Homo sapiens: one gene and its partners. The protein of the gene in region 3 purifies or fractionates together with the protein of the main gene of each other region. This does not show direct contact. Each region holds a gene or a part of one and is shown on either strand. Other genes may lie near its edges.

Evidence for each region. The genes of interacting proteins can lie anywhere in the genome.
Region 1: the proteins of ZNF276 (region 3) and SHCBP1 purify together in Homo sapiens (affinity purification with mass spectrometry; one large-scale study listed by BioGRID and IntAct). This does not show direct contact.
Region 2: the proteins of ZNF276 (region 3) and ANKRD28 purify together in Homo sapiens (affinity purification with mass spectrometry; one large-scale study listed by BioGRID and IntAct). This does not show direct contact.

The regions. Positions count from the first base shown.
Region 1 is NC_000016.10:46,611,380-46,614,879, forward strand, and holds part of SHCBP1 (SHC SH2 domain-binding protein 1), read right to left. Parts: intron 1-3,500. UniProt on the Homo sapiens protein: May play a role in signaling pathways governing cellular proliferation, cell growth and differentiation. May be a component of a novel signaling pathway downstream of Shc. Acts as a positive regulator of FGF signaling in neural progenitor cells.
Region 2 is NC_000003.12:15,791,480-15,794,979, forward strand, and holds part of ANKRD28 (serine/threonine-protein phosphatase 6 regulatory ankyrin repeat subunit A), read right to left. Parts: intron 1-3,500. UniProt on the Homo sapiens protein: Regulatory subunit of protein phosphatase 6 (PP6) that may be involved in the recognition of phosphoprotein substrates. Involved in the PP6-mediated dephosphorylation of NFKBIE opposing its degradation in response to TNF-alpha.
Region 3 is NC_000016.10:89,724,537-89,728,036, reverse strand, and holds part of ZNF276 (zinc finger protein 276), read right to left. Parts: intron 759-3,500; coding exon 680-758; exon of another isoform or gene 611-679; intron 1-610. UniProt on the Homo sapiens protein: May be involved in transcriptional regulation.

The DNA of each region.
Region 1 (3,500 bases), about 43 Mb from region 3:
CTATGTTTGTCATTGTTTTGAAGTGGGTGATGGCAGGAGGTGCTCCTTATAATTTCCGCTTTGCAAACATTTATTCCTTGATTTACTCGTCACCACAATGACCACTGTCACTCACTGTTTCACCAAAAATTGGAAATTGGGTCAATAATTATCTTGTTTGCATTAATATTTCTTAATGTATATATAGTTCACATTTATTTCAATGTTTAAGATTAGAATTGTTTGGGGTCTTTATTTAGAAGTTTGATGATGTTTTCATGACCAGAAATATGCTGTAGAAACTTTAACTTTTGTTTATATCAGTCAGCCTATGGTAAAATTGGTTTCATTAACATCACAGTTTCTAAGAACCTACCAACAACAGTAACTGAGGACTTTATTACAATGCCTGGCCATGTCTTTTTGTGAGGTTCAGATTGATCAACAGATACAGGTTGTCAACCTGATCCACCCTCTATAAAGTTCTCTTTCCCTAATGGTTGCAGCAGTCATCGATGTTCACTGTCTAGAACCTTTATTTCATTAGTGGTTACAAAATACTGATATTCTATCACTTTCTTCATGTATTGGTTGGAATACTTTTATAAAGAAATTCCTCAGGTGATTCCAAAGTGGTTCCAAGGTTGATTAGGGAAAAAACAGTAGATGGCCTAGGACTGATCCCTGGGTAACTCTGACATTCTAAAGTTTGAGCATGAGAGGAAAAGCTGGCCAAGATGACTGAGAAAGCAAGCCAGTAAGACACCAGCTGAACAGTGGTGTCCCAGAAGCTGAGAGGAGAGGGTGTGAAGAAGATGGGAATGATCAAATACCTAGAATGTCAAGACGTTAAGCAAGATGAGATCAGAGGCAGGATGAGATCAGTGAAACGTTGACTGAATACAAGAACATGGAAGTCTTTGAGCATAATTTCAGAGATGAGGTCAGGGTAGAAGAGTTACTGAGACACCAGGAAGTATAGACTGTGATTATATATAACTCTTTCAAGAAGTTCTGCTGTGAAAAGGAAGCACTGAAAATGAAACCAGCCATCTCCTAATTATTGTAGATTGGGCTGTTAGTCCCTTCACCCTCTAGTGGAGTCTTTTGTTGTTGTTGTTGTTGTTGTTGTAATGAACTTAAGCATGCCTCTACTCGATTGAAAAAACCTCTGCTGGCTCCCTTTTAGCCCTCAAAAAGAAGTCCTGAACGTGGTACTATAAATAGATTCATAATCTGGCCCTATTGCGCCTCTCCTGCCTCAGAGCCGTTGTACCTAAACTCTCAATTTCACAAGCTCTTTCAAACCTCCATGTAACTTGTTAGTCAAGCTGCCAGAAGTGCCTTCCACCTTTTCCACCTGGTAAGCTTATAGTTCTATTCCATGACTCGGCTCCAATATCATCCTCACCAGTACCATGCCAAGCATTTACACATCATTCCCTTCTGTACCTCCCGCAGTGTTGATTCTTTCAAGCCAGAAATGTGGAAGTCAGCCTTGACTTCTCTCACCTCACTTACATCTTCTCATCTCTGATATCCACTCGACCACCAAGTCCAGCCATTGTACTTTCTCAGTAAGCCTCCATCCGTCCTCTCTATATCCCCACTCTAGTCCTCTCTCTTGCGTCTTAACTGGTCTACCAATTCCATCTCCCACCATTTGTTTTCTACACAGAAGCCACAATGAACCCCTGAAAACACAAAGCAGCACTTTAGGGGACTGAGGTGGGAGGACTGCTTGAGCCCAGGAGTTCGAGACCAGCTTGGGCAACACAACGAGACCCCCATCTCTACAGAAAAATGTTGTTAAAAAACTAGCTGGCTAGTGGTGGCACATGCCTATAATCCCAGCTGATCCAGAGGCTGAGGCAAGAGGATGCCTTGAGCCCCACAGTTCGAGCCTGCATTGAATCACATGATTGCACCACTGTACTCCAGCCTAGGCAACAGAATAATACCGTGTTTCCAAAAAAACAAAAACACAAAACACAAAACTAGTCATATTCACCCAAGAATAAAAATCCTTCAGTGGCTTCCCACTGCTCTTAAAGACAAAAATGACTAACCAGCTAACAAATCCCCGCACTGTCTGGCCCCTGCCAGCCTCTCTAATCTCATTTCCTAGGTCTCTCTCAGCACTGTCTGTGTTCCAGCCATGCTGGCCTTTCAGCTCCTTAAACACACTGAGCTCCCAAATCTTTTCCCTTCCCCACCCCTGCCTCCCCTTTCACACAGCTAACCCAAGTTCAAATGTCATTATTCCAGTAAATAACCCTAGAACAGCAACTTGACCTAATTTTAGGACACTCTGTAATTCATCACAGCACTCACTGCTATTTCCAATCATGCAGACATCTGTGCGTGATTATTTCATCAAGGCTCATCTCCCACCTTTAGACTGACAGCTCCCTGATGATGGTGTGTCTCATGCACCAGACATACCCCATCCTTGACTAAGGACCTGGCACTCAAATATTCATTGAATCAACGAACAAATGAAATCCCTCATAATTTGACCTTCACTGGGCACTGATCCAAATCTCAGCCCTCCAAATGAAGTGTAAATTTAACCAGGCTCCTCCTCAAATAATACTACCAAATAACATTCCAGATACTTATTTTTCCACGAACTTCTATGCCCATAGAGATTAGCTCCCTGATTCCTAATTTCCTAAACTTATCAGTTATCACTTTATCTTCAAATGCTTCAATTGACAGATTTTTTTTAATGAGAAAAATAGAAGGGAGTTATTTTGGTTCTGGACAGAAACCGGTTCTTTAGATTCATTCTGCTTGGCCCAATACTGAACATCTAGGGTTAAATGTTCTTGCATACAATTAGAAACTGTCCGTAAGATGTTGGCAGCAGGGCCTGAAACACTCTGCTTCTTTGCAGAGCATTCGAGTTAAGCTCAGCAAAACCACGTTAACTCACTAATGGTATAGAAAATAGAAAGTACTTTTTATACTACAAAACACCAAGCAATGTTATTTACATTATGGTCATTATATATTGCTCAGTCTTCTAGTTCCTGAAGGAATATGGGTCTATTTTTAAATAGCTACAAGTAAGCCTTCTTTGGCGAAGATACAAAATAACTATCTATATCAGGAACTATCCAATAAAAGATTGATCTGAAAAATTGTTGAAATCATACCCACTGATCCAGGTATGGGCTTTCTTTCCCAAGGAAGGGACAAGGGGTCCACTTGTGCAGTGGAAATAACTATGGCAAAAAAGACTCACAGGCAGGAATACATCCCCTAAGGATCCTAGAAGCAGCCTAAGAAAACACTTGCTTTGACCAGACATATGCTTGAAAAAAATGTGTATTCGTCTTTTAGCAGTACACACACCATAGTATATAACCTTCTTCACTGTCTTTCTCTTCTTCTACTTTCTGTACTCTTGTATTGAAATATACCGACCATAAGCCTTAACATCCACAACTTTTAAGTCAGTTTATAAATATATACAAACCCAATTAAGAATCCCCTACTTTTGTTAACATTTGTGA
Region 2 (3,500 bases), on a different chromosome or scaffold from region 3:
TTTTTGACAAAGGTGCCAAGAACATACACTGGGAAAAGACAAGTCTCTTTAATAAATGGTGCTGGGAAACTGGATAAACACATGCAAAATCATGAAACCAGACCCCTATCTCTTGCCATATACAAAATTCAAATCAAAATGCATTAAATACTTCAAACTGAATCTAATACAAGAAAACACTGGGGAAAATCTCCAGGACATTAGTCTGAGCAAATATTTCTTGAGCAATAGCCCACAAGCACAGGCAACCAAAGCAAACATGGACAAATGGGATCACATCAAGTTAAAAAGCTTCTGCACAGCAAAGGAAGTAATCAACAAAGTGAAGAGACAACCCACAGAACGAGAGAAAACATTTGCAAACTACCCCTCTGACAGGGGACTAATAACCAGAATATAAGGAGCTCAAACAACTCTACAGGAAAAAACCTAATAATCTGATAAAAAATGGGCAAAAGATCTGAATAGACATTCCTCAAAAGAAGACACACAAATGGTGAAAAGGTTCTCAACATCACTAATCATCAGATATCCAAAACTCAATGAGATATCATCTTGTCCCAGTTAAAATGCCTTTTATCCAAAAGTCAGGCAGTAACAAATGCTGGTGAGGATGTAAAGAAAAGGGAACCCTTGTTCACCATTGGTGGGAATGTACAACCACTACGGAGAACAGTTTGGAGGTCCCCCAAAAAACTAAAAATAGAGCTACCATATGATCGAGCAATTCCACTGCTGGGTATATATCCAAAATAAAGGAAATCAGTGTATCGAAGAGATCTGCACTCCTATGTTTGTTGCAGCACTGTTTACAATAGCTAACATTTGGAGGCAACCTAAGTGTCCATCAACAGATGAATGGATAATGAAAATGTGGTACATACACACAATGGAGTACTCGTCAGCCATAAAAAAACAGACCCAGTCATTTGCAACAACAGGGATAGAATTGGAGATCATTATGTTAACCGAAATAAGGCAGGCACAGAAAAACAAACATCACATGTTCTCACTTACTTGTGGGATCTGAACATCAAATCAACTGAATTCATGGACATAACAGAAGGATGGTTACCAGAGGCTGGGAAGGGTAATGGGGGGTTGAGTGGGAGGTGGGGATGGTTAATGGGTACAAAAAAATAGAATAAGACCTACTATTTGATAGCACAATAGGGTGACTATAGTCAATAATAACTTAATTGTATATTTTAAAATAACTTAAATAATGTAATTGGAATGTTTGTAACTCAAAGGATAAATGCTTGAGGGGATGAATACCTAATTCTTCATGATATGATTATTTCACATTACATGCCTGTACCAAAACATCCCATGTACCCCATAAATATAGACACCTATTATGTACCCACAAATTTTTTTTAAAACCCACTAAAATAAGAAGAAAAATCTATTAGGTGTGTTACTAAGAAACGTGCTGTTTAGTGGTCTACAATATTCAAAACCTCAGGGTGTGACTAAAGAAACTCATCTAAAATTATACAATGACTATTTAATGGTAGAGAAATAAATCTGAACTTATATCCATTCTAAAAATGAATAAAAACAACTTCAAAAAACTTAAGAGAAACCTGAGTTTCAAAAAGTCCAACGTTATTCTCCAAATACTTATTTAAATAAATTTACTTTGGAAAAACACGACTGTCACACTGACATAAAGCTTAAAAATATTTTATTACCTATTAAAAGTCAGTGCATTTAACACCCATTGCCTTTTAAAACCCCATATGATTCCTTATCAGACAAAATCAGATGATATTTACCATCTTAAATTCAAATAATGGCCAAAAAGTTAACAAATCTTGACTTTAAGGCAACACTCTCAACTACTAAGAAAGGGTCACGAGAGAAAAGGCCTAAAAGCAATCATAAAAGTTGTTGTCAAAAACCTTTGTATCACTGAAGACAATTGTCAAAGAGTTACTCTCAAGAAAGGCCTACTGATGAGTGAGCTGATGCTCTCAATGACTCTGAATTTTTTTTTAATTTAGGATAAATTGATTAAATATAACATAAAAGTAATGTCAGCTACAATAAACTTTGTAATGATGGAGAAATTAGCCCTGGTAAATGGAATTATAGTTCAAACTTTCTAATCAAGGTAGTATTTGTCAGTACTATTAAAATAAAACCAAAATAACAAGAAAACCTTAGGAGTTAAATGGAAAACATGTTTTCCACCTTTTCATGCGTCTATACCCCTTGAGCTATTTTCTAAGAAACGCATACTCTTCAGTATACCCTGGGTAAAGTAGCCAGACACTTCATTTAAAACAAATAAATCATGGCCCGGCACAGTGCCTCACGCCTGTAATCCCAGCACTTTGGGAGGCCAAGGCGGGCCGATCACCTGAGATCAGGAGTTTGAGACCAGCCTGGCCAACATGGTGAATGAAACCCTGTCTCTACTAAAAACACAAAAATTAATCGGGCGTGGTGGCAGGTGCCTGTAATCCCAGCTACTTGGGAGGTTGAGGCAGGAGAATCGCTTGAACCCGGGAGGCAGAGGTTGCAGTGAGCGGAGATCATGCCACTACACTCCAGCCTGGGCAACAGAGCCAGACTCTGTCTCTAAATAAATACATACATACATACATACATAAATCCTGAATTAGGTGCATGTTTCCAACTAAATATAAACTTGAAGGCAATTCACTTAGAAAAAATTTTAAAAAATATATAATGATAGCATTCTGTTCATTACCCAATGTTAAAATTAACAACAGTTTTAGCCAATGATTCAAATCTATTCAGATAATTCATTATTTTAAAAATAAGGTAAAACTTTTTTGTATCTACCTAACATTAAGTGGTCACAGCAGTATTATATTAAAAAAAAAAGGAGGAAAGATGAGAGTTAAAAATGAGCTTGCAATGGGTGCTTTCTTAAAACCACAATCATTTCTAGGTCATCTGTTTTGGTGTTGCCACAGCGACTTTGTGAATCATATGACTTTTCACCCCCTCCATAACTCAGGGGTACATTTGTTTCTGGTAAAAATATATACATTAGTGGATGTAATTTTGTTAGAGTACGTAATGTACTTTCAGCCACAACTTAGTAAACTAAATACTGGCCACTGAAAAAACATAACAGAGAGAGAAAATTATCCATATATCCACCTTTCTAAAACTGTCCATCATGTCAGCACTGAATATACTACTGTATCGTTAAGTCTGAAAACTTTTCCAACAATGACTTTACTGAAAACCTAATCTGACAAAAATTAATCAAGCACCATTGTAAAACACTCACCATGATTATTTACAAAAAGCAAATCTGATCTTATATTTAGATATACACTTACAAGAATCCTCATTTGAAATGCACAGTTAAGTATTTAATGGTGAAGTATCATGATTTCTGCAACTTACTACATATATATGTAAAAGTTGTATATTAATAAATACAGAAAGCAAATGTGGCAAAATGTTATCAATGCCAAAAGTAAGTGAAAGGTATATGGGTAGTCAGCATGTTT
Region 3 (3,500 bases):
ATCTGTGTTGCAGCCAAGGTTTACAGGAGAGGGTGGAAACGGTGCAAACCCCAGCCTGGCACAGCTGCCCTGAATGGCGCTTGGCTCAGAGGCAGGGGTGGCCCAGGGAGTTTGCAGACACTGATGAGGTCCCTTCTGAGGCCCGTCCTCCTGCAACACCTCCTCGCAGAGCCTCGGCTTCAAGCCACAACAGTGTCATAGTCAAGGGCTAAAGTCGGGGTTTCTCTACTCCAGAAACATCTGGAGCGAACACAAAACTATGGCCCTAAAACAGTAGCAGAAGCAAAGGACCCAGCCAGAGTGGTTTCAACAAACTCATTTCTAGGCTGCTCTGGGTCAGAAACCCTATCAGGCTCCCTCTGGAGCTGCCTCAGGTCTGGGAGTGCTCTCTGGCACCCAGGAAACCATCAATCAGAGACAAGAAGCCTCGGAAGCTCCCCAGCCCCTCCTCTCCCGCCACCTCGAGAGGAGGCGTGTCCCAACCAGGGCACGGACAGCCGGCCCCTGTGATGGCTTAGTTTGGTACCAGCGCATGGGCAGCCGACCCTACGATGGCTGTTTGGTTTTTGAAGGAGAAATTTTAGGCTGTTTAAACCCACTCTTCTCTCACCCCTCAGAAAGGTCACTGATGGTTTTTGAAGGAGAAATTTTAGGCTGTTTAAACCCACTCTTCTCTCACCCCTCAGAAAGGTCACTGAACTCGTCTTTTACCCGATCATCCGAGGTTGAAGATGGAAGCTGCTTCTCACCCAACTGCCCTGAGAAACAAAGAACAAGGCTCCTGTTACCAACACGGAGCACAGAAAGGTCTCACCTGCAAGGAGGCATGATTCTACTATTGATGACTAGAAGGGAGACTGGGGTCCCTGACCCTCAAGTTCTCCCCACCATGGCCCCATCCCCACCAAGGGTGCTATGCAGCCTCTGATCCTGCCCTGCCAGCCCAACGTCCAGAAGCACACAGGCAGCAACAAGCATCAGAACCCTCAGGAACAGCAGAACCAGAAAGCCCAGTCCTTCCACTGACTCCGATCCAGTCCTTCTAGGACAGCCTGGACTTGGTGGATGTTCTGAGACATTTAAAAAATTACTAGGCCAGGCACGGTGGCTCATGTCTGTAATCCCAGCACTTTGGGAGGCCGATGCAGGTGGATCACGAGGTCAGGAGATCGAGACCAGCCTGGCCAACGTGGTGAAACCCCATCTCTATTAAAAATACAAAAATTAGCCGGGCATGGTGGCACACACCTGTAATCCCAGCTACCTGGGAGGCTGAGGCAGAAGAATCGCTTGAACCCGGGAGGCAGACATTGCAGTGAGCCGAGATCGCGCACTGCACTCCAGCCTGGGCAAAAGAGCAAGACTCCGACTCAAAAAAATAAAATAATTAAAAATTACTATTCTCAGTCCGGGTGCAGTGGCTCACGCCTGTAATCCCAGCACTTTGGGAGGCTGACGCGGGTGGATCACAAGGTCAGGAGATCAAGACCAACCTGGCTAACATGGTTAAACCCCGTCTCTACAAAAAATACAAAAAATTGAGCTGGGCGTGGTAACTCATGCCTGCAATTCCAGCACTTTGGAGGCCGGGGTGGGCGGATCACCTGAAGTCGGGAGGTCGAGACCAGCCTTACCAACATGGAGAAACCCCATTTCTACTAAAAAATACAAAAATAGCCAGGCATAGTGGTGCATGCCTGTAATCCCAGCTACTCGGGAGGCTGAGGCAGGAGAATCGCTTGAACCTGGGAGGCAGAGGTTGTGGTGAGCTGATATCGTGCCACTGCACTCCAGCCTGGGTAACAAAGAGTGAAACTCCTTCTCAAAACAAATACAAATACAAATACAAAAAAATTAGCAGGGTGTGGTGGCACAAGCCTGTAATCCCAGCTACTCGGGAGGCTGAGACAGGAGAATCACTTGAACCCAGGAGGCAGAGGCTGCAGTGAGCCGAGATTGTGCCACTGCACTCGAGCCTGGGCGACAGAGTGAGACTCCATCAATAAATAAATAATACTGTTCTCTCGGCCAGGCCTGGTGGCGACAGAGCGAGACTCCATAAATAAATAAATAAATATTACTGTTCTCTCGGCCAGGCCTGAAGGTTCATGCTTATAATCTCAGCCTTTTGGGAGGCCAAGGCAGAAGGATCACTTGAAGACAGAAATTCAAGACCAGCCTGGGCAAAAGAGTGAGACCCTGTCTCTACTTAAAATAAGTTTTCTTTGTTTTGTTTTTTTCTTTTTTAGACAGAATCTTGCTCTGTCGGTCAGGCCAGAGCGTAGTGGTAGAATCTCAGCTCACTGCAATCTCCGCCTCCCAGGGTCAAGCGATTCTCCTGCCTCAGCCTCCCAAGTAGCTGGGCCTACAGGCAACCACAGCCACATCCAGCTAATTTTTTGTATTTTTAGTAGAGATGGGGTTTCACCGTGTTAGTCAGGATGGTCTCGATCTCCTGACCCCGTGATCCGCCTACCTCAGCATCCCAGAGTGCTGGGATTACAGGCGTGAACCACTGCACTTGGCCTAAAATAAGTTTTAAAAAGTATTGTTCTTGGCTGGGCGCGGTGGTTCACACCTGTAATCCCAGCATTCTGGGAGGCTGATGCAGGTGGATCACGAGGTCAGGAGTTCAAGACCAAGCCTGGCCAACATGGTGAAACCCCATCTCTACTAAAAATACAAAAATTAGGTGGGCGTAGTGGCGCGTGCCCATCATCCCAGCTACTCGGGAGGCTGAGGCAGGTGGATCACGAGGTCAGGAGTTCGAGACCAAGCCTGGCCAACATGGTGAAACCCCATCTCTACTAAAAATACAAAAATTAGGTGGGCGTGGTGGCACGTGCCCGTCATCCCAGCTACTCGGGAGGCTGAGGCAGGTGGATCACGAGGTCAGGAGTTCGAGACCAAGCCTGGCCCACATGGTGAAACCCCATCTCTACTAAAAATACAAAAATTAGGTGGGCGTGGTGGCATGTGCCTGTCATCCCAGCTACTCGGGAGGCTGAGGTAGCGGTGAGCCAAGATGGCACCACCGCACTCCAGCCTGGGCTACAAAACGAGACTCTGTCTCAAAAATAAATAAACACATAGATAGATAGATAAGTAGGTAAATAAATAGATAAATAGGTAGATAAGTAGATACATAGATATACAGATAGGTAGGTAGATAGAGAGAGACAAAGAAGTAGGAAGATAGATAGGTAGGTAGGTAGATAGATACACAGATAGATAGAATTGTTCTCAACACACTGCATACAAGTTTACAGAGCCAAGCAGCTCTAAGATGTGACACTCACAATCCCGTTCCTACCTGAGGCCCCCGAGCCGCACTGTCTCATCTGTGCACCCGTATCTAGCTAAACTATCTGGGTAGCTGTGTTTCTGTTTGGGACAGAGTCTTGCTCTGTCACCCAGGCTGGAGTACGGTTGTGCGATGTCGGCTCACTGCAACTTCCGCCTCCCAGGCTGAAGTGATTCTCGTGCCTCAGCCTCCAGAG